6 separate regions of the Homo sapiens genome follow, and all the other regions are linked to region 1. Evidence: fine-mapped expression QTL. A gene starts in region 1. Each other region holds a variant in brackets. All regions are shown on one strand. Distances are between the middles of the regions.

Region 1 (5,073 bases):
GTGCTCAGACCTCACCCATCCAATAACAATAGTCAAGACAAATGTAAATGAACCTTGATTAACTAGTCTGTCATCTACATAAGAGAAATGGACCAAGAAGATGGAAAATCATGTGGACCTGGTTTGAGAGAATGAAAGCTAGAACTGGGAGGCAAAAGCAGAGAGGAGGGGAGGAAATGATCCAGATCCACGCAATACTGTTCTGCCCGTCTATTCCCACTCATATGTGAAGCAGAGCTGGTGTCCACGGCAGATTAGAGGCTGTGACCAGAGCCCTGGCAGGGCACACAGGTGCTGGCCTGGCCTCACACTTGACCTTCTCCTCCATGAAGAGGAAGCTTGCCTCAGAGAAATCTCTATAAAAAACTACAAGCATCCAAAAAGTTATTCCTTCTTAAAAAAAAAATACAAAAATAAAAATAAAAACCAATGTCCACCCAAAGCAAGTGTTTTCTCACTAATTTTGATAGATATGCACATTGCAATAAACACCTTTATACTCTGGGCATCTTTCAGATGTCTAAGTGGAATGCCTGGGTTATTGATTACTCTGTGTTAAAGCCCAACTTATTACACCTCTCCTCCACTTTTGCTAATTTTTCACTCATTTTTTTTCCATTTTCACCTTTGAATTCTCTGAAACAGCAATATTTTAAAACGCTAAAATGGTTTATTTACATCAGTCAATACTTGCTTTTCAACCAAAGATAATTTATTTATATATTAACAGTATCTCAGCTCCTTTTAACGTCCACATCAGCAAGCTCTAGAGAACGTTTGCAATGGACAGGAATGATGGACAGCAATGAGCAGTGGAGGCAGGGAGACTAGGCTCTCAAATTCAGACAGGAACTCCATCTGTCTTCCTCTACCACAACTAAAAGATACCCCTCCCCCAGAACCAAATATGTTATAGATTAGCCGCCCACGGAGGCTGAGGCTATCAATTTTATTTCAGCTAACTTCTACTTCATAGAAGAGCAACTGACTTTATTCCCTGAAATCATACCTCGATGAGCAAAGCAATCTGTCAGAGGCACACCTGAAAGAATACCTCTGCACCTCCTCCACGCCCCCAACATACACATACATGCTGCACACACAGGGGAAGGGAAAGTTAACTTTCAAATAAACCTGCCCCGCAGCCAGTCTGACCACGTTTCCAGACCCTTCACATTCTCAAAGGTGGTTCTTAAACTCTTGCTTAAATCCAGAGGCTGAAATCTGACCTCTATCTGCTGAAGGCATTGGCAAGAGGTCCACAAATACACCACTCCCCACTGCCCCCACCCCCCACCCCTCCCCCCCCCGCCCCCGCTTCCTTGGCCAAAGTGGGAATAATGGGCCAGGCTTTATTGTCTTTCCTTGGGAGAAGCCAGGCCCGGAGGCTGGTGGGAAGCTCCAGACAGAATGTGGGTGTGTGAATCTGTGCGGGCTCCACATGGGAATTTTCAGGGAACTCCAGCGGTTTCGGAGAAGGGCGGCCATAGGCTGGGACGCAGGCACCCTCGCGTTGTCAGATCCTCCTGAAGTCTGGGTGTATGGGGGAGGGGTGCAGGGCTGTCCTGGCAGCTAGGCTCTTTCTCCCCTCTGGGCCATCCCCAGGCCCTCCCACCACAGCTGGGTCACTCACCGCCCGTGAGCTGTGCAGGGCCGAAGCACAGCGCCAGCTGAAACCACAGGATCACGGCCAAGAGTCTCTGGGGGGACTGAGGTTGCTGCTGCTGCTGCTGCTGCTCTAGAAATCCATCTCCATTGCTCGGGTTCATTCCATGATACATCTTTCATCCACAGAGGGCATCCAGCTTGCAAGAGTCTGCAACCAGAAGCGGAACACCACAATAAGCCAGTCTGTCCGGGCTCGGGGGCCACGCTCCCCCTCCTCCGCTCTGGGACCCGGCGCCTCGGCTTCCCAGGCTCCATCCTGGTTCCTCCCCCGCGCGGCCCCCGCCCCCTTTCCCACGGCGAGGTCCCCCGCCTTCCCCCGAGCCGGGTGCACTGAGTAACAGCCGCCGTGGGATGCTGCGCGTGCTGGGGGATGGAGGACAGGAGGGAGGGCAGGGGTTAGCGCACATTGGCTCCGCGCCGGTCCCCGGGATTCAGCAGCTGTGCCCACCACAGGAAAGTCTAGAGCCTCCCCGCGTCTCGGGGCCGCGAAGACACTTTTCCCTGGGCCTATACATTTCACTCTGGGAATCTCACAATGTGGCACCGTCTCCCCCAGCTACTTCTCTGGTTTTCCTCGGGATTGGGATCGATCCTACTGCCCCAGTCCCCAGTGAGATTTCTCTGCGCTGTCAAAAAAAAAAAAAAAATTCTCCCTTGGGGAGCTGCACCAGGCACCAACTCCCCCTCCCCGGCCTGCGCGCGCCTCCTCGGAATGGAAGACCCTTCCGGGACTGTCGGTCTTACCTGTGGGTCTCATGCATGCAGCTTCCTTCCCTCCTCCGCCTCCTCCCCCCGCCAGTCTAACCCGCATCTGTGCGCGACCTCTGCTGCCGCCGCTGCGCGAGCGAGCGAGACGGAAGCTTCGGCGGCGGCGCTCGGCTCCAGCTCCCCCGCCCGCGCGCTCCCTCCCCAGGCGCCCCCGAGCGGGCGGGTGTTGGGGGAGGACGGGAGCCCGGCCGCGCGCCCCCGCGGAGGCGCCCGCGCGCCCGCTACCTGAACTCGCGAGCGCGCGGCGGCGGCGGCGCGGAGAGAGGGAGTGGGTGGGGACGGGGTGAGTGGGGGGGCGGGGACGGGGCGAGGGGTGCGCGGGCGCGCGAGCACGCGCCTCTGCCAACCCAGCCGGCGCCGCGGCGTGGCCGGAGACTGGCGAGGGCGGGGACGGGGAAAGGGGCCCGCCGCCGCGACCAATGGGAAGCCCGCGCGCCTGCACCTGTCGGGGCGCGAGGCGCCGGCGGCCGGTCTTGCACACGCACGCAGCTCGGTCGCCCCTTCCCCGGCGCTGGACTGCAGCCCCTGCCCCGGCTGCGCGCCAGCTCAGGTGCCCGCCCCGGCCTCCGCGCGGCCTCTGGTGCCCCCAGCCCGCGGCGCGGCGCGGGAGAGCGCTCCGCCCTAGAACTACCGCCGCGGCGGTGGCTGCAGACCCGGGGCGAGTGCGCGGCCGGCAGCTCCCAACCCCAGAACTCTCGCCACAGACCCGGTTAACTTGAGCACCGCCAATTGCCCGAGTCTCTTAATTTCCCGCGTTAACCCCTCCCCGCTCCCATCTCCGCCGAAGCTCTGCGCGTCCCCAGGGAGCCCGAAGGACCATCTGAGGCGGCTGAGAGACACTCTCCCCCTCCCCCACACCCTTGGTATTTTCCCTCTGCCAGCCGCAGGTGTTGCGAGTGAGGACCCCTGTCCGGTCTTGGAGATGCGCGGGGCCCTCGGAGCCTTGGCCTGGGAGGCGCTCCCGGGGGCGGGGAGGCGGGGGTAGCGGGTGATTGGTGACACGCAGAAGGTTGGGTACCTGGAGGAGGGGAGGCTTCCGGGGTCGTAGATGGGAAGCCAAGGGGGTCGGTGGTAATTGCCCTCCCAGCCCCAAGTGGAGAGAGTTGGCCTGGTCGGTCCCCTGTCTCTGCGCCGATTCTGGTGTCGGAGCTCAGCCCGCAGTGGTTGCAGCTCTCACTCGCCGCCGGCTCTGATCGCCCGCGGTCGGTTTCAAGATAGGGAAGCCCACATTCCAGCCACAGTGATTAAGAGGTGTCAGCTAATGAGGTGGCGTCCACCGGCAGCGCTTTAGAGCCAGTGACACTCCATGATTCTGTAGCAATTTGTGGATATGAAAACTATGTTCCTGATACAGCTACTAAATCATCCTTTGCTTCTATCGACTTTCCCAAAATCTCACATACTGATGGTAGTTGGGAAATTACAGCTTTTATACTGTGTCAGCTCTTACTGGGAGTAATTTTAACACATTCTTTCAGGATAGATTAGCTTTTAGTAGATAAGTCAAGCTCCGTTATTTTGTTTTTTGCTTTTGCGTGTGTGTGAAATTGAGATGGCAGCTTTGCACAAAATAAACAAGATGTTGACTAGCACAAGTCCAGTTTTGCTACAGCTTGTACTTTGGGACCCCAAAATCTTAGTAGGGGACCATCCACCTTCCCAAGGTCCTGTGACTGTCCTCTACAGTTTGTATATTTATTCCATTTTTCTTTCTTAGTAAATTTTCTAAATCTTTTTAAATATCCACCAAATCAACAACGGTCAGAAATATTTGTTGACCATGCACATGTTCTTAACAATTATAAGAGATATATCTAAGTGCCATTGAAATCTGTTCTTTGGCTGGAGTACAATCTAATTTTAACAGAGAATGTTGGGACTGAAAGGAACATTCAAGTTTATCTGATCCAAACATGGGATCTATGCTTGAGTTTCCTCTCTGACATTTCTAATAAGTGGTCATTCAGCCTCACTGAATACTCATCAAGGTAGCCTGTTTATATTTGCCAGCAGGTCTCTTAGAAAAGTCTTTCTTATATTGAACTGAAATCTACTTCCCTGAAACCTTTACCCACTGATTCTGGCTCTCCTCTGTGGGCCCACGCAGCTAAATAGAATTCCTCTTTCTTAAGAGAGCATCTCATGGCTTTGGAGATGGCTTCGTGTTCCCTTGAGTCTTCTCTTCTCTGGGTCACGCATAGCCATTTCCTTCAGTGCGACGATTCCCAGACTTTTCACCAGCCTGTGGCCTTTCTCTGACCCAGTTTCTCAATGATATCCACCCCCAGCAATCAAAGTTTGTTTCCAGAAAGAGGCCCTACTTTCCCTCTGTGGGTTCTGACCAGTACAGGCCGGTACTGTTGCTTTCTGTATTTTAAACAACTTGCTTCTATTAATTCAGCTGAAGAAGACAAGCATTTGGAGGGCAACTACAGCATAACATATTGTTATTATTATTATTATTTTTAATTATTGTTATACTTTAAGTTTTAGGGTACACGTGCACAATGTGCACGTTAGTTACATATGTATACACGTGCCATGCTGGTGCGCTACACCAACTCGTCATCTAGCATTAGGTATATCTCCCAATGCTATCTCTCCCCGCCCCCCACCCCACAACAGTCCCCAGAGTGT
Region 2 (5,073 bases), 130 kb before region 1:
CACCAGCAGCACACTGGTTGCCGTGAACGCCACAATCTTCCACGTGGTCAGGAGGGTCTCATGGGTGCTGGGCCACGTTTGCTCTGCATGAGGGAGAACAAAGCTGTACGTGAGGCTCCCAGACCATGAGAGGTGCCGAGGTTCCCCGTGGGCTCATTTGCTGGATTCATCTGGCACAAGAGATGCGTGCAAGGTGCCTCTGACCCCCAGGGCTCGGCAGAGATACCATGTGCCCCTGTAGCTCATGTAAATTGCATCAGGATCCACCCAACACTAAAAACCTGTCTCCAGCATGGGCTCTGCCAGGTTGCAGACCTGCATGCTCACATTCCAGTCCCAGGCGCAGGCCTGGCACAGGCTTAAATAATGCATCTGCCTCTTGAGAACAGAGGTGGGCATCTCTCTTGCCTGGAGAAGTTGCTCCGAAATGGACCAAGGGGTGGGGGAGTGGGAAGCTGGGCCCTTTGTGAATGTTCTGGGATATGCTGTGGGGTTGGGTAAAGCAAGAAACAGAGGGTAAAGGGGACCCCTGTTCCACAGCTCTCATGCCCTACCACCTCTAGCCATCAACTGCCTGCCAGGTCAGGGGCAGCAAGAGCAGACCTTTCCAGAAGAGACTTATCCTTTGGGCACAGGCCACCCTGTCTCTTAAATGTCTCTCTGCCTTGTCATGACCACCCTCTTAGACACTCTCTTTGCACTTCTCCCCCGGCTGGCTCACAGGATCATGTGTGCGCCTCCAGAGACCTGGCATTAACAAGTGCTTCCTTGTGTCCAGGGGAAAGGCATGCAGTCATCAGCACTGCTCAGGGCAGCATCCCCAGCCTGGAAAGGGCTGGAGAGAGTGGGAAGGAGACAGTGGGTGTGTGCTGGTGCCCCAGTCTCTATCCTGTGGTCACTACCCAGGTGCACTGAGGCCAGTGGGGAAGGTGGTTTGCAATTAAGTCATTTGCTTTTAACTATGAAGCCCTGAAGCTTGCAAATGGCCTATAGTTTTACAAGTGAGAGCAGGTGTTACCCACAGTATCATCTGTATTCTGATATGTGTCCTTGAGTGGAAGAGAAAGGTAAAGTTATGCGTTGCTTGGGTCCAGGGCAATGCATCTAATTCTGGTCACACCCACAGGCCTGTGTCCTTACCAGTGGAAAAGGACAAGGCTGGGAGAAAAAAGAGTGTGGAGGCTGGAGGTCTTTCCATGGATGCTAGGGGTCTAGGGACCCTGTTTAGATGGTCAGCTTTTTAACCTGGGAATGGACAGGTTAATACTCCTGACCCTCTGAATAGGGTCCCTAGGCCCCTAGCATCCATGGAAGGACCTCCAGCAGACAGTTAATACTCTTGACTGTCTGAACAGGACCTACAAGCATCTGGCACAGAGCCCAACAGCAGCCCCATCGACCCGCAATGATATGTTTCGATATCCTGTTCCTGACACTGGGTGGGGGAGGAGAGATACAGCTTGGTACATAACCACCACCCACTATGTGCAGATGGTCCAAGGAGGGTCCATCTCCTCCAAGGGTGAGGCCTTCAGTCTTACCTGATTTGATGCAGTAGACTTGATAAGAAGGAAACCACTCTCCATACTGGCAGGTGATGTACTTGTAGTCGCTGGTGAGGCTGTAGCCAGGATCGCAGTAAAACTCCACCACAGTTCCGTGGTTGTAGCGCTCACAAGGCCGCGGGTGGCAGACGAAATCTCCGTGACTCACCATTGGAGGTAGTGGACAGACTTGGGCAGTAGGGGAGAATAAAAGTTTCAGAACCACAAGCTCACCTTTGTCTGAAGCCCCTAAGACGAAGAATGGCCTAGGAGAACTCAGTTAAAAATGTGCTTATGGATTAATCACCAGGCTACTGAGTTGCATTAGAGATGGTCTCTTTTTTAGTATTTCATGGAAGGCGGAATGGAAGCCTGCTGTAATATTCTGAGCACGTGCCGTTGTGACATGGCATTGTGAAGTACATCGTAAAAGAGAGGTTCGTTTTACAATGCAAAGAGTATGCCTATTTAATAGAGAGTATTAAGCTACTGTATTAATAATGCATGCTATTATGTGCCAGACAACCTAGTAAATAAAATTAACATATTTCTGTACAAAATCTTTACTGAAAGGCATAGTTATCCCAAGCCTGTTTCTGTGACCACAGTAGTAATTTGGGTCTATTAAAATCACAGGGCAGTGTCCCTAACCTGATCCCCTACAGCTCTGCTGAGGCTTAGCCAATGACGAACATGGAGCAGTTCTTCTAGCTCTGCTTGCAGAGCCAGGGCACAGCCTCCAGGGCAACCAGAGTTAGGTGCCTTGGGCATGAGGCTTGGTTCTGCCACCAACACCACACTGTGTGACCTTAAGCAGATCCCTTAACCTCTTTGAGCCTTGATTTTTCTCCTCTGTCAAATGGAAGCTTATTCTACCCTAGGAGGACGCCTTAGGGTTCTGACTCGAATATCCCATCATGTTAGGGGAAGAAAAAGTTGTTTTTAGTGTCTTTAGTATCTTGGTACTGCATTCTAGGTTGCGAGGTAAGGACGGTTCCATCTCTGTCACCACAAAGACGGCTTCAGTGGGAGTTCGGTGCTTTTTATGCCACAAGGAGCTCATTCTTGGATGAGGACTCAGAAATAAACAGTGCTGCTGCTTAAACATTCTTCAAGAAACAGTCAAACCACAGATT[C/T]TATCAGTGCCAACTTCAAACCCACACTCACAGAAACCAGTAAGAATTCTGACCAAAAAAAAAAAAACCTAAACGAAAAAGAGTTAACTTTTGATTCCCTCCCTTGGGGTAACCAAACACCCTGGCCAGTGCAGAACAGGCACTGCCCACCATACAGGCCAGAAGAGGTGCCCTCTCCACACTGGCCACTGAAACTACTCACTGGCAGCAGTGGGTGCCACTTGGAAAACAAGATGGCCCTCCCTGCAGAGCAGGCCACCCTGCCGGAGGTGTCCCGATGCGTGTGAAGCAGGGTTGGAGGCACACTACAGGCACTCTCTAGTCCTTCAAACAACACTGTAGTGTAGATCTTGTTGGTTCTTTCAGAGAAGGGGAAACGGAAACTCACAGAAGCAACTAGAGGAGTGAGTAGAAGCCCAGGTATGCTCTAGACAGGCCTAGGTCTGAATTCCGGCTGAACTACTCACCAGCCGAGTCACCCTAAACCAATCCCTGTGCATCTTTGAGCTTCAGGGTCCTCAGCTGTACAACAAGAGTCTCTGAGGGCTATCTCGAGAAATGCTGGTGAGGGCTTAGTTCAGAGCTGACAAACTGTGATTATTCAGGGAAAACCAGGACTTGAGTATCTAAAGAGATGGAATTTAACGAGGTGATGGCAAAGTGGAGAAGCCAGCAGGAACACCCCAAGATTAGTGAGAGCAGGAAGCCACTACCGCTCCTGGGCTGGTGGGATGAAGGGGTCTCGTTGCTGGGGTCCCTAGTGGAAGGTGGAACCATGGAGGTCTATCCCGCGGGAACTGGAGCCCGGGGAAACTCAGACCCCGCTGGAGATGTCCCCAGGGCAGGAACAGTGAGGGAGAAGTAGCCTGGTTCTCCACCTGCCCACCCTCCAGGCTCCCTCTGGACAAAGCCAGTGGGGAGCCAGGTGACAAGGGGGTCTGGGAAACAGGGTCTGCGGTGGACAGCCTGTCTAGATCTGGTGCAGTGCAGGGAAGGTCCAGGGCAGATCTGAGGCTGGCAGGCCCAGGTGTGCTCAGTAAATGGTGGCTGTCAGGTGGCTGCTGTGAGCATCCCACAGGTGGACACTGGCAGAGACAGGCTTTGAGCTCTGACTCTGAGGCCCAGGAGCTTTCTGCTGCTCTGCCTCAGGGTCTCTCCTGGGCTGGCAAATGCAGTCACACAACCCCTTGCATTTCCACAAACAGGGGCTCTTTTCAAGTTTGCTACCACCAGGGTGCTCTGGGAGCATCTCCAGGAAATAAAGCAGAAGGAAGCAAAGGGAAGGACAGCTGATGAGGAACAGGGAGAGAGAAAAAGGCACTGGCCACGTTGTTGAACTGGTCCTGGGAGATCCAGGGATGTGGCCGTAAGGGCTCTTCTCTCCTTGGAGGCCCTCCTCCGTGCTGCTTCTCCTCTACTCAATTCCTGGTTCTTCCCACAAGGAAGGGGTCTCCAGTGGCCCCGGGACTGCCTGGGGGCCCCCTTCCCTGCACTGCTGGAGCATTCCCCAGCGCTGTTGTACGCTCAGGAGGCCGGCATCTTCTCTGGGACAGGAGCCCCTTTCTGTGGTCAAGGGTATGGCAAGTGTCCATTGACAGATGAATGGATAAAGAAAATATAGGCAATATACACCACAGAATATTATTCAGCCTTAAAAAGGAAGGAAATCCTGCCATTTAGGACACAATGGAGAAACGTGGAGGACGTTCTGCTAAGTGAAATAAACCAGGCACAGAAAGACAAGATACTGCATGATTTCACTTATATGTGAAATCTAAAGAAGTTGAATACATAAAACCAGGGAGCAGAACAGTGGTTACCAGGGTTGGGGAGGTAGAGGGAATCAGAAGATGTAGGTCAAAGGGTAAAAGGGTGCAGTTCCATAGGACGAAGCCCAGAGCTCTGATGTATAGTATCCAGACTCCAGTTAATAATACTGTATTATACACTGGAAATTCACTAAGAGAGTAGATTTCAGGAAATGGATTATGTTAACTTACTTGACTGTAATAGTCATTTCACTGTGTAGATGTATCTCAAAACATCATGTTGTACACCTTAAATATCTAACATTTTTATGAAAGAGAAAAAGAGGTACACAGAGCAGGAAGGCACTTCTCCTCAAAGGCTCTCTAAACAAGCCCCTGAGGGCCACTGTAGGATTAGAAAATTACCAAAACTCTTTTCAAAGCACAGAAAATGTCATGAAAGAGCCCACATAAATGTATGCAAGTTTGTTATCAGCAGCATTTTTTTCTCACTGGGCCTGAAAGATGAACGACTGTTCAAATCATTGCATTCACCCCGAGGCAAATGGTCCCATGGTGTGCTCAAGAATTTCTGTACCATACAGATCAACCATTTAATCAATCATTTAATGAGCAAAGGCAGGC
Region 3 (5,073 bases), 990 kb after region 1:
GATGGCAACGTGTTGAGCCAGAAAGTATTGAGCCTATACAAAGACTTCAGTGAGGGATTCCCTAAAACGAGTGATACCAAGCCACTTACTGCAAGTAATGGATAGTTACATGAATGTAAGAATAGATTTGGACTGAAAAATATAAAAATCACTGGAGAGGCTGCATCTGTCTCTTCATCTTATCACATAGGCATTTTATCATCATACATCATCTCAAAAAGAAGGGTCAGTACAATAAGATATTTTGAGACAGAAAGACCACATTTACATAACTTTTATTACAGTATAATTGTTCTATCTTATTATTACTTGTTAATCTCCTACTGTGCCTGATCTATAAATTAAGCTTTATCATAGGTATGTATATATAGGAAAAAACATAGTACACATAAGGTTTGGTACTATCCATCGTGTCAGGCATCCACTTGGGGGTCTTGGAAAGTAGCCCCTGCAAATACAACTGTATTTGTTAAATGAATGAATGGATGAGTAAGACATCGTATTCACTTCTTAAAGATCTTAAAATCTAGAGAGGAGAGAAACATTGCTGTAGGAGAGGATAAACAAAGGACTGTGAAATCTCTGGAGAAATTGAAATCAGGAAGGGAAGGGCAAATCGCAAAAGTCAAGCCAGGAGCATTAAGTTAGATTTGTGCTTTGAGATGAAAACCCCTTACAAATCCTAAGTCAGGGAATGCAATGGTTCTAGAGCCAACTCTAAAGAAAATTTCACACATGGGAAATACATCCTACTGGATATCCGGATTAAAAGCGTTCAGTAGAGACTGGTGCAGTGGCTCAGGCCTGTAATTCCAGCACTGTGGGAGACTGAGGCAGGCAGATCGCTTGAGCCGAGGAATTCGAGACCAGCCTGGGCAACATGGCAAAAACCCCATCTCTATTAAAAATACAAAAAATTAGCCAGGCGTGGTGGTACATTCCTGTAATCCCAGGTACTCAGGAGGCGGAGGTGGGAGGATCACCTGAGGCCAGGAGGTAGAGGCTGCAGTGAGCTGTGACCATGCCACTGCACTCCAGCCTGGGCGACAGAGTGAGACCCTGTCTCAAAAAATAAAATAAAATGAGAAATAATAAAATAAAATTAGCTGGGCATGTCGGGAGGCTGAGGTGGAAGGATTGCTTGAGCCCAGGAATTCGAGGTCATAGTGAGCTCTATCACGCCACTGCACTCCAGCCTGGACGACAGAGCAAGACCCCAGCTCTTTAAAAGAAAAGCGTTGAGTAAATACTTGTTGATTAATTCCATTTCTGGAAATAATCGGATTTATGAAAGAGGCCCTGCCCACCTCTTTGATATGGACTTGTACTAATGAACTACAATTCCCAGCATGCGTCAGAATTAGGGCCGTAGAGTTTTTTAAAATATGGACTACAACTCCCGGCATGCCACACCAGGATTCGAGGACCACACGCCTCAGCCAGCCCCGGCAAGGGCCTATCAGGGGTGGGTCGGGGCATCCGAGCGGGTTTGACGGAAGGAGCGGCGGCGACGGAGGAGGAGGATGGAGGCGGTGGTGTTCGTCTTCTCTCTCCTCGATTGTTGCGCGCTCATCTTCCTCTCGGTCTACTTCGTATCCTTGCCTGAGGCAGGCGAACGCCTTGCCGGGGGACACGGCTGAGGGTGGGCCAGTTGGGCACCCGGGCAGGTGTGTGGGACTAGGGAGGCGCCCGGCGGCGGGCGTGGGCTCCCTGGGAGCTGGCCTGGCCGGGGCGGTGGCGCGGGCCCCGGAGCGGGTAGGAGAGGCTGGCTGCCCTACCCGACGGGCCCTGCTGCCCTGCACGCACTTGCCCTGCCTGGGTTGCCGGCCGCCCCTCACTCGGGTCCGAGTGGGCCTCTCCGGGCGCGCCCCGTCTCGGCCTGCCCGCCTGCTCTCCGCTCGTCCCCGCGGCGCCCGGACCAGCCCTGCCTGAGCCACGGCCGCCCTCGGGAGAGAAGCGTCGCTGTTTTTCTGGGAGAGGCCCTGCGCCGTGCTCTTCGTCGGATATTGGGGGTCCCAAGGGCGGTCGCTTGCGACAGTCGGGTGCCGGGATAAGTGCGGGCCATTTGCCTCCTCCTGTTCCCCACGCAACACCCCCGGCACCCGCCCCTTTGTTCTGGCGGGTGTTAGTACTTGCAGGGACCTTTCACATCCAGGAGTTGACTCATTCGCCAAAGGAGCGAAGTTGCTTCCTTCACTGTGCCGTTTTGTAGTGAGTGTTGGAAAGGAGTTGTTTTAACAACTGTCTACAAAGTGATTATTTTGGTTGTCCCCGGTGGTTGCAGATCTGTAAATTCAATAACTACATCTGCTGTAGTTCCCAATCGTTTCTCAGCTTTTAAATTTTTCTATCGATCCATGTTAAAACTTAAGTTGCAGTATTCAAACTGTTTTCCAGAGCAATAAATGGTGGTTGAATTTAGCACTGCAGTAGCCATGTCGGCTACAACTCTTCCCATCTCTTGACAAAGCATCTAGGCTTAGTTGTTGCCCAATGTTGTATTGCACCATCCAGGTTTAAGTAATTAAATATAAGAAAAAACGTATGAGGAACTCCGCATTTCAGCTTCCTTTCTTGGAAATCACATGTACCTGTTTCTGATCGGATTAAACCATTTGTTTGCTAGAGCATGCGGGCTTTAGGATAGTCGTACAGAGTATATGTTCAGTGCAGCTTCATTTTTCATTGTGGACTGGCATCCTGTTGTAGTGGAAAGGGACAAAATTTGGAATCAGATTTCCTGGTCA[G/C]CTAGCTCTTTGCTTGCACATTATTTCCCTAAGCCTCAGTTTTCTGATCTTTAAAATAGGAAATGTTTATTTCCTAGATATGCACAATGAGAATGGTGCTGAGCACCCTAGCACAGTGCCTGCCCCATAGCTAATGTTCAGTAAATATTGCTCTGCCTTCGTGTCCCCACCCTCCCCAATTGAGCAGCAGTTTTTACTTTGATGATATCTAACGACAAGATTTCTGAGTTTTAGTAGGTTTGGGGAGCTGATTGAAAGGGCAGCATCACTTGCCTAAGTTTTGATGACCTCTATGCCCCTCTTGTGATATAAGGAACTAGAGCAAGCTTGTCCAACCCACGGCCCACGGGCTGCATGTGGTCCAGGACAGCTTTGAATGTGGCCCAACACAAATTTGTAAACTTTCTTAAAACATTATGATTCTTTTTTGGTGATTTTTTTTTAAGTTCATCAGCTATCATTAGTATTAGTGTATTTTATGTGTGGCCCAAGGCAATTCTTCTTCCAGTGTGGCCCAGGGAAGCCAAAAGATTGGACACCCCTGAACTAGAGCTTATGCTCAGAAATGTAGCTGGGTTTTTTCTTTTTGCAGTTTGGAAAACCAGGCTTGATAATTTTAAATAGCCCTGGTTTACACCAATTTATGCATTTAGAGAAATGGTAGGTGGAATGTTTGACTTAGACATTACATTAAAATACATTCGGGGGGTGTTTTGATGAAATTCAGCATATTCTGTATTTTAGAATAGTTGCACTAACTTAGGGATAGGAGGTGGAAAATGGTCACGGTAGACTTAATATAGGATATAAGAGTTTTCTTGGACTTTGAACTGTGGACAAAATCTACAGGAAGGGGAAGAGGTGAATATTCCAAATCAGACACTGGCAAGAGCGAAGGTGCAGAGACAGGTATGTTCGTGGATTTCTGGGCTATGGTTAACGAATAGACCATCTGGAGCACATGGTTGATTTTGGCGTCAGTAGAAGGCTAAGTTGGAAAGGCAGGATTACATCAGATTTTGGAGGGCTTGAATGTTAAGGGTGGGAGGGAAGTCTTTCACTTTTATCCTGCAGGCAATAGAGAGCCATTGAAAATTTTTATTTTCGGTAGTTTATTAGGAAGATGAATCTGCCGAGTGGGTTGGAAACAAGAAAGATTGGAAGATAAACCAACTGGATAGGGTCGTCTGGATTTCAAATAGAGTGCTGGTTGTGGGCAGGTGAAAGGAGGGAATATGTGAGTAGTATTTAGAAGAAATGATTGCCAGGACCTACAAATGAGTGATTATGATATATGAAACAGAAGGCAGAGATAGCTTTCCATATTTTGATCCTGGGCAAGTGATACTTGTGTCAGTAACAGAAATAAAACAAATTGGAGGAAGATCAATCTGTGGAGAAAGTGATGAGTTTGACTTTATTTTATTTTCATGTTTATTTTTGAGACAGAGTCTCACTGTCACCCAGGCTGGAGTGCAGTGGCGCAATCTTGGCTTACTGCTGCCTCCATCTCCTGGGTTCAAGCGATTCTCCTGCCTCAGCCTCTCAAGTAACTGAGACTACAAGTGCCTACCAAATCTGCTGCTCAGACTGGAGCGCACTGGTGTGATTATAGCTCAGTGTAACGTGAATCCTGGGCTCTAGGCATTTTGCTGCCTCACCTTAGCAGTACTGCTACTAATAGCTAGCATTACAGGTGCTCATGCCCGGCTAATGAAAAAAAAAGAAAAAATTTGTAGAGATGGGGGTGAGGTGAGTGAATCACTTGAAGCCAGGAGTTCGAGACCAGCCTGGCTAACATAGTGAAACCCCGTCTCTACTAAAAATACAAAAAATTAGCTGGGTGTGGTGGTGGCGCGCACCTATAGTTCCAGCTACTTGGAAGGCTGAGGCACAAGAATTGCTTGAACCCAGGAGGCAGGGGTAGCAGTGCGTTGGAATTGCGCCACTGCACTACAGCCTGGGTGAAAGAGATGGAGGCTTGCTATGTTGCCTATGCTGATCTTGAACTCCTGCTTCAGGCGATCCTCCTGCCTCAGCTTCCCAAAGTGCTGGGATATTTCCCATTTTTTTTTTTTTAATAGCCATTGTTTTACATTTGAAGAACTCAAACTAAATGTTCTGGTTGGGTCAGATTAGATTTGAGCAAAATAGGATTATTTTGTAAAATAATTTGTTGAAGGAACATGAATGGGAAAATTGAGTTGTCTAATGAGCAAACTTTAGGAAACAACTCATTTTTTTCAAGTCAAATCTAATTCTGCCTTGTAACTGGGATTGCTTTCTGAAACTTAAATACTTAGTTATTATAAAAGAAATATAATAA
Region 4 (5,073 bases), 170 kb before region 1:
GTAGTGACAGCATCAAATGCCAGTTAGAATGTAGAGAAACCAGATCACTCACACATTGCTGGTGGGAATGTAATGGTGCAGCCATTCTAGAAAACTTCGGGAGTTTCTTTAAAAAACTAAACGTGCAACTACCATATCATCCAGAAATTGCACCCTGGGACATTTGTCCTAGAGAAATGAAGACTTATCTTATGTTCCTACAAAAACCTGCACATGAATATTTACAGCAACTTCATTCGTAATAGCCCAAGAACTGGAAACAACCCCCGTGTCCTTCAACAAGTCGGTAAATGATTAAGCAGACTGGTTCATCCATACCATGAAATACTACTCAGCCATGAGAAGAAACAGCCTTGATACACAAAGCAACCTGGATAAATCTCCAGAGAATTATCCGGAGTGGAAAAAGCCAATCCCCAAAGGCTGCTACACAGTCCGTGACTGCATTAGTTTAACATTCTTAACATGACAAAATTATAGAGATGGAGAACAGGTTGGTGGTTGGCAGGAGTTAAGGAGGAGGAGAGGGCATTGACAAGGGAAGGAAATGGGTATGTCTATAAAAAGGCAACTTGAGGACCCCTTGTGATGATGGAAATGTTCTGTTTCTTAGCTGTATCAATGCCAGGGTCTTGGCTGTGATACCGTACTGCAGTTTTGCAAGATGTTACTATCGGGGGAAATTAGGTAAAGTGTTCATGGGATCTCTGCATTATTTCTTACAACTGCATATGAATCCACGATGATCTCAAAATAAGAAGTTTAAAACCACAAATGTGGGGAGGAGAGAGGCAGAAGTGTTTGAAAAGGCTAGAAATTATCAAACAACAATTTTAAAGTTCTATTCATAAACAAAGTAGAACTATTTGATTTCCCATTGTAAATAGAAAATGTGATTTTACATGCCCAGTACAACATATATGCTTAATAAATATTTGTTGGAAAGATGGTGGTGGGGGTGGATGGATGGAAAGCGAATAGCTGCAAATCCTGTCAGCAGGCAGTGTAGGGGCAGAGAGAGGATGAAGGAAAAAGAAAAGACAAAGAGATAAAGAAGGAGGAGGAAGGGGGAAAAAGAGCAGAAGAAGAGAAATAAGAAGAGAGAAAGGAGGAAATGAAGGGGAAAAGGAGGAAGAGGAAGAAGGGGAGGAAGGGGGAGGAAGAGGAAGAGAAAGAGAAGTCAGGGGAGATGAGAAGCATGGTGCTTTGTGGCATATTGACGGTGGGCAAGGCTGTGGATTTTTCTGAGCAGCCTTGGTGTGGAGAAAAGACCTCCCAGGGTGCATGGCGCCCGCAGACACCCTGGCTAGGCTGCCCCTTGTTGGGTGGAACTGCTCCCTCCCTCTTTGCTGGGCACCTACTTTGTCCCCTGGTGGGTGGCTCCTGTATGGGTGAGGTATTCCAGCTCTCTGGGCCCTTTCCTTCTCACCCTGTATCGGCACAGCTCCAGCACCAGGTCATGGTCACAGACAGTCAGAATGTGCTGATGGAATTTTCCTGTTGATTTAAGCTAGTGAGACCTTGCTTGTCCTGGAAAAACTGGACATGAGAGAGGTAGGGGGAACAGGAATTGCTTTCCAAGAATCTCCCTCATATGGGGTGCTCTGAAGGCCTCTTTTGTCATCTCCTTCTCCTTGGGAAGGGGTTCCTGGAAAGGTGCTGGTGCAGGAGGGCACTGGTGCAGGTAGCAGCTGGTGCAGGTGGGCGCTGGTGCAGGTGGGAGCTGGTGCAGGTAGGGGCTGGTGCAGGTGGGGGCTGGTGCAGGTGGGAGCTGGTGCAGGTGAGGGCTGGTGCAGGTGGGGGCTAATGCAGGTGGGGGCTGGTGCAGATGGGGGCTGGTGCAGGTGGGCGCTGGTGCAAGTGGGGGCTGGTACATGTGGGGGCTGGTGCAGGTGGGAGCTGGTGCAGGTGGGGGCTGGTGCAGATGGGGTCTAGTGCATGTGGGGGCTGGTGCAGGTGGGGGCTGGTGCAGGTGGAGGCTGGTGCAGCTGGGGGCCGGTGTAGGCAGATGCTGGTGCAGGTGGAGGCTGATACAGGTGGGCACTGGGGAAGTTAGGGGCTGGTGCAGGTGGGGGCTGGTGCAGGTGGACCTGCCAATTGGGACTAGGTGTCAGCCACAGCCAGGCGAGGGGGAAGGGAAGGAGCTGTCCTGGCTGGGGGCTTGGGGCACCAATTTGCAGGTGAGTGAGAAACCCCAAGACCAAACGTTTGATTGCGTGCATCACCTTTGTGTCACCTTTCAGTGCTGGACTTGTGTTCCCTGGAGACAGGGCCATGATCTTCTCTCCCATGTGTCAAATCAGACAATGGACACTGAAACACTGCGCTGGGGCCTCAGGAGGAGGATGAGGAACAGGATAGGGGGACACCCACCTCTCTCTGCCCAGGACGACTCAGGGGTGTGCCTCCTAGCAGCTGTGAAAACACTAAAGGATTTACAACATTCCCGCTTATGTGGGATTTGGATTCATTTCCACAGCTCTACCTATGAGTAAGAGAATCTATTCAGCAACATGACATCACGGAATGGCAAGAGTGACAGCTGCAGAGGTGCCAGATGTTGTCCCATCTCTGTCTCACTGTGCTCTGGCCTTCTCTGGCCTCTCCTTTCTAACCCACCAACCCTGTCTGGCTGGGATATAGGCCTGGTTCATAAGTCCCCTCTGCTATACTCCACCTTTGCCTCAGGTCTCTCATCCCTTTGCCTTCTGCCCGCCACCCACCTGGATTGGAAGCCCACCGTGGGGGTTGTCTCTTGGCTGCTGAGCGCTCAGCAGGGCCCCTGTGGTCAGCAAATGGGTGATGTGGGAGTGCAGATGACACACCCTGGTTGGGTTCTTTCC[G/A]TGAGAAAGTGGCATTGGGTATTTCTAAAATGACTGTGGTTTTCTTAAATTTTCTAACCACAAAAATGTTATGAGTTTCTCACCGTGGCAGATCAAATAGAAATATGATTCATGCTTCACAATTTGTGTAGCCAATATCATAGATATTTGGTAGTTCTATTATGTATCTGACAGGTACATATATTTTTTTCCTCTAAGAGATTGTTCTGTGTGAATAGATAGAAACTACTTAAATACAGTAAAGTCTATTTATTACAGACCAAGAGCAAACAGTTTACTAAATGGAAAAATGCTGAAGTCATTTCTATTAATTCAAGATCAAGACAGAGTGCCCATTGTCATCACTATTGATCTACACAGCATTGGTGGGTTTAACTAATAACAATAAGATGAAAATGAATTGATTGGAATAAGCATTGGAAATGAAGACAGAAATGTCTTTATTTGCAGATGATTGAGAGTATACCTAGACAACCTATAGATCCTAATAAAATAATATTAAAATTAGTAAGAGAATTTAGTAAGGTAGATAGGTAGATAAATATATAAATATAAAGCTTTGGTTTATGGTAACAATAAACATTTGAGAAGGGAAATGAAAAAAAATAGCCTATTCATAATAACAGCAGGCACTCACTATACAATTCCTAAGGATGCATTTAACAAGAAAAGGTAAACTATTTACAGAAGTAAAATGATACAATCGTATTGAAGGACATTTTAAAAAAAACCCTCAGCAAATGGATATGTACAAGCCATGCTTCTGTATGGAAAGATGTAACATCAAAAAATACCAGTTCTTAAAAAACTAATGTATTAAATTTAAGACATTACTATATAAATTTAATGCAATTGCAGTTAGAATTTTACTTCTAAGAACCGGATAAAGTAATTTTAGATTCTATGTAGATAAAATAATTGTAAAGTAAATGTAAAATAACTATACATTTCAAATGTTCAGAGAAAAATAGTGAAGAAAATGCGAATGCATGGGGACCAGTTCTAGTATAGACAATAAAACTCAGACTCAAGCAACCAATACCAAAACAGTATGTTGCTGGCACCGGATCTGGCCAATGTATTAAGGAAACAGACCTGAGAGCCCAGAAATAGATGAGTAGAGAAATCTAAAATATGATGATGGCATTTTCAGTCAGAGAGAAAGGGTGGTTCCAGCAATTGTTCAGGTACAACTGTTTATCCAACTTTAAGAAAAACAAACAGAGATTCTACTTTAACCATATGTAGAAACAAATTCTAGGTGATTTAAAGATTTACTTGTCAAAATAAGACATTAACATATTAGGACAGAATTTAGGGGTCTATTTATATAATCATAGAGGGAGGGAGCACTCTTTCCTTCCCTTCCCTTCCCTTCCCTTCCCTTCCCTTCCCTCCCTCCCTCCCTCTCTCTTTCTCTCTTTCTCTCTTTCCTTCTCTCTCTCTCTTTCTTTCCTTCTTTCTTTCTTTCTTTCTTTCTTTCTTTCTTTCTTTCTTTCTCTCTTTCTTTCTTTCCTTCTTTCTTTTTTTTTTTTTTAAATAGAGTTTTGCTCTTGTTGCCCAGACTGGAGTACAATGGTGTGATCTCAGCTCAACGCAACCTCCACCTCCTGGGTTCAAGTGATTCTCGTGCCTCAGCCTCCTGAGTAGCTTGGATTACAGGCCTCTGCCACCACACCTGGCTAATTTTGTATTTTTAGTAGAGGTGGGGTTTCTCCATGTTGGTCAGGCTGGTCTTGAACTCCCGACCTCAAGTGATCTGCCTACCTCAAACTCCCAAAGTGCTGGGATTACAGGCGTGAGCCACCGCGCCCAGCCAGAAGGAGCACTTTCTAAACAAGCTAGAAATCCCAGAAGCCATCAACAAAGGGGGAGATATATGTTGACTACATGAAAATTAAACATTTTATAAGAGAAGGATCCATGAGCAAAATCAAAGAGCAAACAACAGACTAGGAAATGTATTTCCAACACACAATCAATCTCTTAAACCATTGAAAAACTATGAATTAATTATACTTTTAAAAGATAAATTTAAATTGTAGCAAGAAAATGCTAAAGGACTATGAGCTGCTAATTTGCAGAAGAAGCAATCCAAGCACCCAGAAAACACATGAAAGGAGACTCAGAGAACAGAAATTCAACAAATGAGGCAACAGGGCCACCTAAGGTTTTAGGGTGACCAACTTGTCCTTGTTTGCCCAGGAGTCTCCTAGTTTTGAAACTCCTT
Region 5 (5,073 bases), 150 kb after region 1:
CATCATTTGACCTGGCGGACCCCTGGAGTACAGGCCGATCCCGGTGCAGCAAAAACTTGTGCTTCAAGGAGACTCAGACCCTGGTCAAATGTGTCCCCCAAACTGCAGGGAAACCATATTGAACTTTCCGGATGATCTGTTTCAAATTTTTCCATCTTGACTTGAGGAGAAGAAGGATGTACTTCCCATGCCTTATCATATAGGAAAATAGAACCCACTTGTTTTGTTTAATTTTTAGACACAGAGTCTATCTCTGTCACCCAGGCTGAAGTGCAGTGGCACAATCATGGCTCACTACAGCCTCGAATTCCTGGGCTCATCTCTGCCTCCCTAGTAGCTGGGACTACAGGCACACACCCAGCTTGTCACTTTAATTTATAAAGATGAAACAGTAGAACTTTCTCAGGTTGGCAATACTCCATGGATATTGTCATGCATCGATGCCAGAAGACTAATGCATCCTGACCTTGGGAAGAGGAGAACAGAAGCTCTGCATTTGGAATATTTCTGGATTCTTCTGTTGATCAATTTTAATCTGTATCCTTTTCCTGTAATAAATCATAACTGGGTGTCTAACAGCTTTCCATGAGTTCTGTGGGGACTTCTAGAAAATAATTTCAGGAGTTTTTGGAACCTCCTGAATTTGCGATTGGTGTCAGAGTGAGGGCAGTCAGGCAGGCTGTCCCCTCTAACTTTGCAATTGGGAGTCAAAAAACTTCAGAAACTGCTGCTGATGTTTACAGCTGCTCAGCAGCCCTGAGGCAAAAGAGTGGCTGGGAAAAAAATACACTGGAAGAACTCATGCTGGCCAGAGTTAATACACCTGCCACTATGCTGGAAGAGGAAGAATGGCTCAGCCTCCACTCCGGCTTCCTAATCTAGCTTCAAGGCACTTGTTGGCAGAATTAAACCATACTCAACACTCTGCAAACAAGGGAATCCGGGAACAGGCTTCTGAACAGGAGAGAGGCGGAGGAGGTGAACCAATCCCCCACGGGGCTCACCAGGACTCTCTCTGAAAATCCACTTCCTAATTTTCAACTCCAAAGCCTTTGAGGTCCTCACTAAGGATGAGGGGTTTGAGATGTATGTGATGGGATTGTGGAGAGCTCCATGGTAAATTCTGCAAAAAATCTCCCTCTTCCTTTGAATGATGTATTATCCAGGAGTTTCAGCCACAAGCACCATTTTATCATCTCATTACACCAATCACAGCTAAGGCTACAATAAACACTTGGAATAATAAGGTGCAGACACAATTACATGCTTTACCCTTCTCTGGTCTTTGAGAATAATAAACATGGTCACAGAGCCTGGTATTCAGATGAGGCTTTCCTGAGGACCCTTATTTCCAAAATCTGAAATTACCAGAAGGGTAAATTAAAGAATGAATACTCATTTGGTAAAAAGGATACCTTGTTTACAAAATAATTTTACTTTAATGGTAGGGATTTCCAGCTATTTACCACTTGTCAAACCAGAAGAAAGAAACTCCAAAGTGTTAGGAGCTATTGTTAAAGATCAATTAAGACTGTAGAAACCACATCTCAGAAACATTTATGAAATTAATTGAGAATTATAATTTGTATCACACACTGTTTCTATGAATGCATCTCTTTTCTAAAATAAGACCCAGCTGTAAATTATGGGGACAACATGGGTTGGTAAATGCTCTTCAGATGCCTGATGGGTGCATTTCCTGTCTCCCCTGGGTGTTAATCTCCTGCGTGGGAAGACTCTGTTTTCTGTGTGTATCACCTAGGATGCTTTTGGCTGCGAGTACAGAATATTTCAACTGAAATGGCTTAAACAATAAGGACATTTATTATCTCACAGGTCGAGCTGTCTGGAAACAGGAAGTTCTAGGCTTGGTTAATTCTGTGTGATGAAGTTGTCAGGCACCTGCTGCCTCCCCTCTTTGCACTCTGCCATCCTCAGTGTCATCTGGTCCCCTCAAGGTAGCTGGATGGCCGCTGACCACTGGTTCTCACACAAGCCCATCAGAAGGAAGGGAGGACAGCCTCTCTTTTACATTTCTTTTGTTGCCAGAGAGAAAATCCTCCCTAGTAGTTCTCTAGAAGGCTTCCCTTGCTGGTTCCTTAGTCAACGTTGGGTTTGACATGCACTCCACAGCTTTGAGAAAGCCTGGAAAGTGAAATGGCATTTGCAGCTGCTTCTATCTTGAGAGTGACGTTCTCAGCCACAAAGGAAGAAGGAGATTTAGAAACACTGTTGGTTCAGAAACCAAACATATCTGCCACAACACCCAGACCCTGCCCTCTTCTAAAGCCATAGGCCAAGGCTCTGGCACAGCAGGTGCTCAGCAAACACAAGCTAAGAAATAAAACATCCAAGAGCCAGTGCAAACCAGTGCTCACTCAATCAATCTCAATTTCCTAATGGGTATTTCCAATTTTGATATAGAAGCCTCCTACACAGGCACCAAGAGCCAGTCCCCCTTTGCCCACCTCTTGTCCAGGAGGTGGCTGGTCAGGCAAACCCATACCACAAGTAAGGGAGCCTTTTCCAGGTTTTGTTGTTATCTTGTTCTCAAGTCATTCAAGAGACTGACTTTCCTGGCAGTGGAAACCTGAAGACCCTTGCAGGAGAAGAGCCACTGCCAGGAGCAAAGCTGTCCCCACACAGATGAGAGCCTTTGCTAGTCTTGACCTCGGATCTGGAAATAGAAGGGTCTTGTTCATGTTCCCAAGGAAATTGAGGAGAACACTCTTGAGTTAAAACAGGTGCTTCACACAGGGCCCTTTAGAGGAGCTAAAACCAAATGGCTTTCAAGAGAAGAGAACAGTAGTTCAGAGACAAACTTTATCAGACGTTTGGATAGCCCCATCCCCAGCAGGGACCTGTGGGCCAGGACACTCCCTTTTCCTCAAGATGTAGCTGGGGACTCACTGAAATGTCACAGCCTCTTCAACTTGCAGTTGTGACAAAAACTCACTGATCTCAGTGGCCCCGTGGCCTCTTACCAGCATTCTGTCTGTACACTCAGCTTCTTCCAGGAAACCAGAGAAAAGGTAAAGGCTTCACTAGAGATCA[C/T]ATCAAGCACGGAAATCAGAAAGGGGCTTTGCCACAGATAATTTTGAGGTGAATGCCGGGTGCCTCCCAGGAAGCCACATGCCACTGGAGCCGGAAGAAATACAAAAGATACTCATTTAATACCTGAGGAAACTGAAGCCCCAGAGGGAGACACACAGGTATTTTGGCTCATTGGAGAAGCTAATGAGCCCACTCTCCACTCCTAATTAGTTGTATCATATTGGACAAGTTGATAACCACTTTGAATATTGGTTTCTTCATCTGTAAAATGGAGTTAATAACGTTGGCTGCACAGGGCTGCTGTGAGCATCAGACAAGATGAGGCGTGCAGGGGTGGTGCATCTTGGAACGGGAAGTCTCTGCCCAGCTTCCCTCCCCCGCCACCTCCCCACACTGCCTCGGGGCTCCTGGGGGCTGCAGCTGGCTGGGCATCCTCACTGTGTGGACACTATCCTCTCTCTCCACCCAACTCAGAGGCTGTCAGCTCAGGCAGACCAGGCAGGCAGGGGACCCCCTCCCGGGATTCCCCACACGGGAGTGTGGCCACCCTGGCCAGTGGGGCTGAGCCCTCTGAGGATGCACAGCTCCTCCCTCTCCTGCTTGCTCAGAGCCATCTGTTCTTTGTCCCCATAGAGAGGCCAAGTCCCAGAGCCACGGGGAAGATGGCAACTGCTGCTGTAAGGGCTGGGGCTCATGCCTCCTACCACTTCCTTCCAATCCCACCCTGGCCTGCCCTCATGGGGGCCCCTGGGCCTGTTCCCAGGCTCAACCACGTGTCAGGAGCAAAGCTGGCCCTCAAGGACCAGGGACACCCTCCCTACCTCCCTCATGCCTACTCCTGGGAGGGGCTGGACAGGACCCATTGTTGTCTGGGTTCTGGGTAGTCAGTGAGTATCTAAATGAGAACAATAGCCCCATAGACCATTCTGGAAGAATGTCTTCAGGAAAATCATTGTTCATAGGGACCAGCCGTTCTGCCCCACAGCTCTCCTGGACTCTGGGCACAGGTGGGGAGGGCCTTGGGGTGTCCTAAGCACTATGCCCTGACCAAACACCAGCTACCTGACTTCTGGGCCCTTCCATTCCCTGCAAATCCCTCATTTGAATTGGAAATGACTCCTGCAGAGAAAGCTTCCAGCACAAATAGAGATACCCAGAGCCTGTGGGCAGCCCTGGGGTGGCAACCCACATTCCTACTTGCAACTTCTGGTGGGACGTAAGCACGAAGCATTATGCCTCAGGATGCTCTAAAGCTTGATGTGGAGACATGGCCTGCCTGACAAGGGATTGGTAAGGAATAACTGAATAGCAATTGTATTTTTAAAGCACTTTGCAAAGTGCCACATAAATAACTCCTCGTGTAAGTGATTGTCACATATATAAAATGCTATCGATGGCAGAAAAAATTATCTCTGGCGGCAGAGACACACATATCTATGCCAGGAAAGCAGGTCTCTGGTAGGGAGGCACCTGTGGTGTACTGAGAAATAAATGTCAGCAGAGACCTGTCCCTGTTCTTGATCTCCCCATTGCCACATGCAGACCACAGGAGATGTGTTTATGTGTGTGTGTTTTTTTTTTTTTTTTTTGAGACGGAGTTTTGCTCAGTCACCTAGGCTGGAGTGCAGTGGCGTGATCTCTGCTCACTGAAAGCTCCGCCTCCCGGGTTCACGCCATTCTCCTTCCTCAGCCTCCCAAGTAGCTGGGACTACAGGCACCCGCCACCATGCCCAGCTAATTTTTTGTATTTTTAGTAGAGATGGAGTTTCACTGTGTTAGCCAGGGTGGTCTCGATCTCCTGAGCTCGTGATCTGCCCGCCTCGGCCTCCCAAAGTGCTGGGATTACAGGCATGAGCCACCACGCCCGGCCATTTATGTGTTTTTTAAATCACCAGCAATGAAATCCACTTAAAATATTGCAACAGCCCTGATGTGGGGAACTTATGGTGACATAGATCGCACTGATTACTGCCTTTGATTCTTTGAAGAGTGTGAGAGACTAAAGCAGAACTATTATTT
Region 6 (5,073 bases), 120 kb after region 1:
GGTGTGGGGTATGTGTGCACTATGTGTATAAAATTGTGTGTTGGTGGAGGGTGTGGGTTGGGGCTGTGGGATGATCATCACTGGAAGGTGAACCGCAGCTCCATGATAACCTTTTGTGCATACACGTCATTTGTAATTAGCCAGGTCTGGAGAGTTCGAAACTGGGAGAAGAGAAAGAAGAGAAGAGAGAAAAGGAAAATTAATGAAACAAGTAACCTGCCTTATATGGATATTTGATTTGCTTGTTTGCACATTGTTTAGTCCTTACAAGCTCTGAAAATAAAACACAAGCACAGTATCAGGCTCAATTAGGTGCTTAAGAAATACCTTTTGATGATGACAAATGGCAGGGATGTTAATGACACTGCTTCCCTCCAGCTCCTGCTGCACAGAGCGCCCTTGGCTCTTCAGACTTACAGCTCTTTGCCTGAGCTGCTGTGAGCAAGCCTCTGCTGCCCACAGGAGATGGCCCTGTGGGCAGGGCCTCCCTGTGTCTTTTCACCTTTTGAGACAACCCCATCCACCTCTTTGGGCAGCAGCTCATAGCAGGTGCTCCCTGAACATGTCTGCCTTTGACTTGAAGGGGTCGGGACGCCGCTTGAGGATGCTAAAGGGAGGCAGCTCATTGTAATGCCTTCACCTCCACCACTTCCAGGAACTCCTCCTCTCCTTGTGGATCTCAGGGCTCATACGGTTTGCCCAGAGCCCAACAGCTACAAGTGCACTCAAACAGAACATTCCTCCGTGCGTTTGCTCTTGCAAAATGTGTGTTGGGGGCGGGGGCGGTGGCTCATGCCTGTAATCCCAGCACTTTGGGAGGCTGAGGAGGGTGGATCACCTGATATTAGGAGTTTGAGACCAGCCCGGCCAACATGGTGAAACCCCGTCTCTACTAAAAATACAAAAATCAGTCCAGCGTGGTAGCAGGTGCCTATAATCCCAGCTACCTGGAGGCTGAGGCATGAGAATCGCTTGAAACCGGGAGGCAGAGGTTGCAGTGAGCTGAGATCGTGCCACTGCACTCCAGCCTGGGCCACAGGGTGAGACTCCGTCTCAAAAAAAAAAAAAAAATGTGTGTTGGATCCCATGGTTCCCCTGCTGCCCAACACACCGAGAACCAAACGCACACTTGCACGCTCGCCGTGGGGCCTCAGTCACCTCCTGACTCCCAAACACACAGCTCTCACTGCTGCCTCCCGTGCTCCCCCAGGCCAGCGCTGGCTCTCTCAGTGCTAGTATCTTTTTATAAGGATACCAGTCGTGCTGCATTAGAGCCCACCCTACTCCAGCATGACCTCATCCTAACTTAACTAATTACATCTGCAGTGACCCAATTTCCAAATAAGTTCACATTCTGAATTACTGGGGGAATAGAATTTCAACATATGAATTTTGAGGGGACACAGTTCAACCCATTACTGCAGCTATCCACAGAAGAAAGTCCAAATTCCTTATGTGGCATTCAAGGCCCTCTGTAATCCAATGAGATCCACGTTTCCAGCTGTTTCTCTTCTTCTTCTCCCCTAGGTGCACACATGTGATACTGTTTTGTATCAAGGCAGGATTCTGAGATTAAGTGAAGAAAGGGGAACAGTTAGGAGAGTAGCATCTGCTGAATGTTTACTAAATGCCACCGTCAATGACAAGTGTGTTTTATCTACGTCACTCTACTTTTTTTTTTTTTTTTTTGAAACAGAATCTCACTCTATTGCCCATGCCGGAGAGCAGTGGTGCGATCACAGCTCACTGCAGCCTCAAACTCCTGGGCTCAATCAATCCTCCCAATGCAGCCACTGTGGAAAATGGTATAACTTTCTCAAAAATTAAAAATAGAATTATCAAATGATCCAGCACTTCCACTTCTGAGTATATACCCAAAAGAATTCTAAGCAGAGATTCAAACAGATATCTGCACACTCATATTTATAGCAGCATTATTCACAATAGCCAAGAGGTGCAAACAACCAAAGTGTCCATCAAGAGCTGAATGGATAAACAAAATGTGGTCTATCCATACAATGGAATATTACTCAGGCTTGAAAAGGAAGAAGATTCTGATACATGCTACAACATGAATGAACCTTGAGGACATTATGCTAAATGAAATAAGCCAGTTTCAAAAGGATAAAAACTATATGATTCTACTTACATGAGGTACATAGAACAGTGAAATTCACAGAGACAGAAAGTTGAATGGTGGTTTCCAGGGGCAAAAAAAAAAACAAGGGAAGATTCACACTCCCTTGCAGGTTTCTCTCCACAGACCTCACCAGGTGTCAAAAAAAGAGTTCTCCAGGGGATTCCAATGTCTGCCAAGCTGTAAAGCCATCGGCCTTTTGGGTAGTTATCTTCATTTCTTCTTTGGGGAGAAGCTTGATTTTCTGTAAGCTGCAGAAGATAGCTCAAACCAGCAGCTCAGCCAGTTAAGGGGACGGAGGCTGCTGGTCTGCATCCTTCCAATGGTCTTTCGTCTCCCTTTTTCTCCTAACTTAAAGCTTTCATGATGGAGAAGTCTTCCCTGTTGTCTGCAATTTTCCTTCTCTCAAAACAACCTTCTGAA[T/A]CCTCTTTTGGGGTGGGGTTTCAGATGTTGTGAAACCATCACATGCTTATGAACTAGCAGACATACAGCACCGGAAGTTGAGAGGGTGGACTGCTATTAGACTGCCTGGGCTGAGTCCTGAGGGCACCTCTTGCTTGCTTGAATGACTTCGGGCAAGTTACTTCACCTCTCCAAGATGTCATCGGGGCTCATCAAAGTACCCGCCCCATGAGGTCTCCTTGTGAGAACAACATGAGAAAAGCCTGTGCAAAATGCTTGCCTGCCACGTAGAAAAAAAGCTTCCATAAATGTTGGTTCATATTGTGAGCTTTCAAATCAACCAAGTGTGAATAATTTCTACTTCATTCCATTGGCTATGGCAGGGGAATACAAAGATTTGTCAGAGCCATTTCCAGCCTACAGGAGTTTACAGCTATCTGACTTTACAGCTACGAGTGCCGTGAGAGAGCTACAAACCCAATGCTGCAGGTGTTCAAAGTCAGAGATTTAATAACCACGGAGCCGGGAATTAGGGAAAGCCTAATGGTGAATGGATTTAAGCTGACCCCGGTGGAATATGAAGTACAAAGCTGACTTCCCTGCAACTCTGTCTGGTGACATCCTTTTCTTTTTCCAAAGAGATACTCAAGACTCAGAGAGATTCAAAACCACCCAAGGGTCACAGGTGGTTTATCAAAACCCCCACCCCACCCCCCAAATACACACCAAAAAGCTAGGTTTAATAATCCATGACTCAGAACCTGGAAGGCTCTCTGCAGGGCTGAGGGGCCTCGCCGGCTGTCTATGACTGCTGCCCGCCTAGCAGGCACTGACCCAGGCCCCAGGCTCCAGGACAGTGTGCTGTCAGCCAGAGGCAGCTGTCAGCCAGACTGCTCCCCTCCTCTCAGCCTGGCAGGGGTACTCAGGGTAGTTCTCTCTGTTGGGGACCCTAAGCATGAAACAGTATTGGAGGAGGCTGTGCTGAGAAACCCACTGAGGGAGGAAGGCTGACGGTCTGTGTTCTTCTAGTGGTCTCTCTTCACCCTTTGTTCTCCTAGCATAAAGCTTTCACGATGGAGATGCCTTCCCCATCATCTGCAGTTTTTCTTCGCTCAAAACAAGCTTCTGAGACATCTTTCCGGGGAGCTTTGGTCATTAGAGCTTGGGAGAGGGAGGCCCTTCTCTTCCGGTGTCCTCACAGGGTCTCTGTCATTTAGATTCTTGTTGAACAACTGGGCTTTGGAGGGGGTTGGAGGAGACAGTGAGTGATGGTGCTGGGGCCCAGGGCCATTCCAAGCAGAAGAAAGGCACTAGCAGGGGCATGAGGCAGGACAGCCCAGGGCATGTGTGGACATCTGGGAAGAGTCTGTCTATATTCTGACTAGGAAGTGTACATGTGAAGGAGTGAGAGGTTAGACTTGAAAGATGAGGGTAGGTGTGGGCCAGACTGCAGAGGGTTGTCCTTACTGCAGTGGATCACGGGGAACCATGGAAGCTTCCAGAACAAGAAGTGAGCTGAGACAACAACTGTGACATATAGTTTGTTGAGTGAATGAATGAATGAATGTCTGAGGAAGACACGACAGTGGCAGGAGGGGAGAGTCCCCTACAACAAGCCCCACAGCCCTGCTGCATATGCTTAGGTAACCAGTGTGAACTGCTCTGCAAATTCAGACCTCAAGTAAAGTCATATCTATTCTATTTTTTACAAATGAAAAATAAAGCCAGCTCAGACCTACATGCCAGAGGAATGAGAAGTCCAAAATCTCTCTCCTGGTACTCCCTGTATCCCTCCCTGCTTTTTGCTGTCAGCTGCCGTTGACGCTGGTCCTCTGAGTCTAAGACAGTGCTGACTGCTGCCCAGGTACAGGCTTCCTTGATCTCCAAGGGAGGAGTGTGCCCACATAGTGCTCCGTGGCTCCCTCAGTTCTCAGGGCTCTGGTACTCACCTCCTTCAGGCCCACACCCAGGCATCCCCCTAAGGACAGCAGTCCTAGGAGCCTCCACGGAGTCTCTCAGGCCTCCACCTCTGTGCCTTCATGTCCTGCCTTCCCTAAACACCCATCACACAGGAAGTGGGGCAACTTTCCTCTTCCAGCCTTGGGACACAGAGGACAACAGCTTTCCTGGAAATGTGGTCACCCTAAGTATTGCCAGGGGTCCAACAGCCTCCGAATGCAAAGGGTCTAAAGACACCTTTTTCTCCAAAGATGAAGTCACTCTCCCTCTTCAACACAGAGATCCAGATCCTCTCCTGGGAACCCAACACCCCCATCCCTTTTCAGGTGTGAAAGAGGCTCCGTTTAGTGCCTCAAAAAGGACTTACTCCACTAAGAAAAACCAAGGAAATGCCAAGATCTCTTTTTGGGAGCAGAAAAAGAAGAAAAAGGGAGAAGGGAGGAATATTGAGGATCTCCCACTATGTTTATATTGTAACATTTTTCATCCTATATTATAATTTCTGCTATTTTACTTGGAATTTTCCTTAAAATTAGATATCCTTTATATAGTAAAATCTCTAGCATATAGCATTT

Alleles and levels. Positions count from the first base shown, and alleles are read on the strand shown. Sizes are in standard deviations (SD) of each study's normalised expression. Not every link is listed here.
As copies of T replace C in region 5, the expression in whole blood of the gene that starts at base 2,532 in region 1 goes up (moderate effect, 0.40 SD a copy in GTEx).

The links.
Region 2: its variant is fine-mapped to the expression of SUSD4 in whole blood (TOPMed, PIP above 0.99).
Region 3: its variant is fine-mapped to the expression of SUSD4 in prefrontal cortex (GTEx, PIP above 0.99).
Region 4: its variant is fine-mapped to the expression of SUSD4 in whole blood (TOPMed, PIP 0.96).
Region 5: its variant is fine-mapped to the expression of SUSD4 in whole blood (TOPMed, PIP above 0.99). The same link has a PIP of 0.9 or more in T cells and blood mononuclear cells.
Region 6: its variant is fine-mapped to the expression of SUSD4 in whole blood (TOPMed, PIP above 0.99).

The regions. Positions count from the first base shown.
Region 1 is chr1:223,361,645-223,366,717 of GRCh38, forward strand. SUSD4 (sushi domain containing 4) reads right to left here and starts at 2,532. Exons shown (of 9, transcript NM_017982.4): 1 at 2,413-2,532; 2 at 1,634-1,816. The coding sequence starts at 1,781.
Region 2 is chr1:223,227,656-223,232,728 of GRCh38, forward strand. It overlaps SUSD4 (sushi domain containing 4), which reads right to left. Exons shown (of 9, transcript NM_017982.4): 6 at 1,542-1,733; 7 at 1-83. Among named protein-coding and RNA genes, the nearest start is that of TLR5, 87 kb to the left of the region's middle. The variant C/T (reference allele first, on the strand shown) is at 2,681.
Region 3 is chr1:224,355,402-224,360,474 of GRCh38, forward strand. It overlaps CNIH4 (cornichon family member 4), which reads left to right and starts at 1,478. Exons shown (of 5, transcript NM_014184.4): 1 at 1,478-1,592. The coding sequence starts at 1,524. RefSeq lists enhancers at 1,131-1,270, 1,828-2,328 and a silencer at 1,551-1,920. The variant G/C (reference allele first, on the strand shown) is at 2,748.
Region 4 is chr1:223,187,690-223,192,762 of GRCh38, forward strand. No RefSeq gene overlaps it. Among named protein-coding and RNA genes, the nearest start is that of TLR5, 47 kb to the left of the region's middle. The variant G/A (reference allele first, on the strand shown) is at 2,844.
Region 5 is chr1:223,512,618-223,517,690 of GRCh38, forward strand. No RefSeq gene overlaps it. Among named protein-coding and RNA genes, the nearest start is that of CCDC185, 120 kb to the left of the region's middle. The variant C/T (reference allele first, on the strand shown) is at 3,055.
Region 6 is chr1:223,480,289-223,485,361 of GRCh38, forward strand. No RefSeq gene overlaps it. Among named protein-coding and RNA genes, the nearest start is that of CCDC185, 89 kb to the left of the region's middle. The variant T/A (reference allele first, on the strand shown) is at 2,561.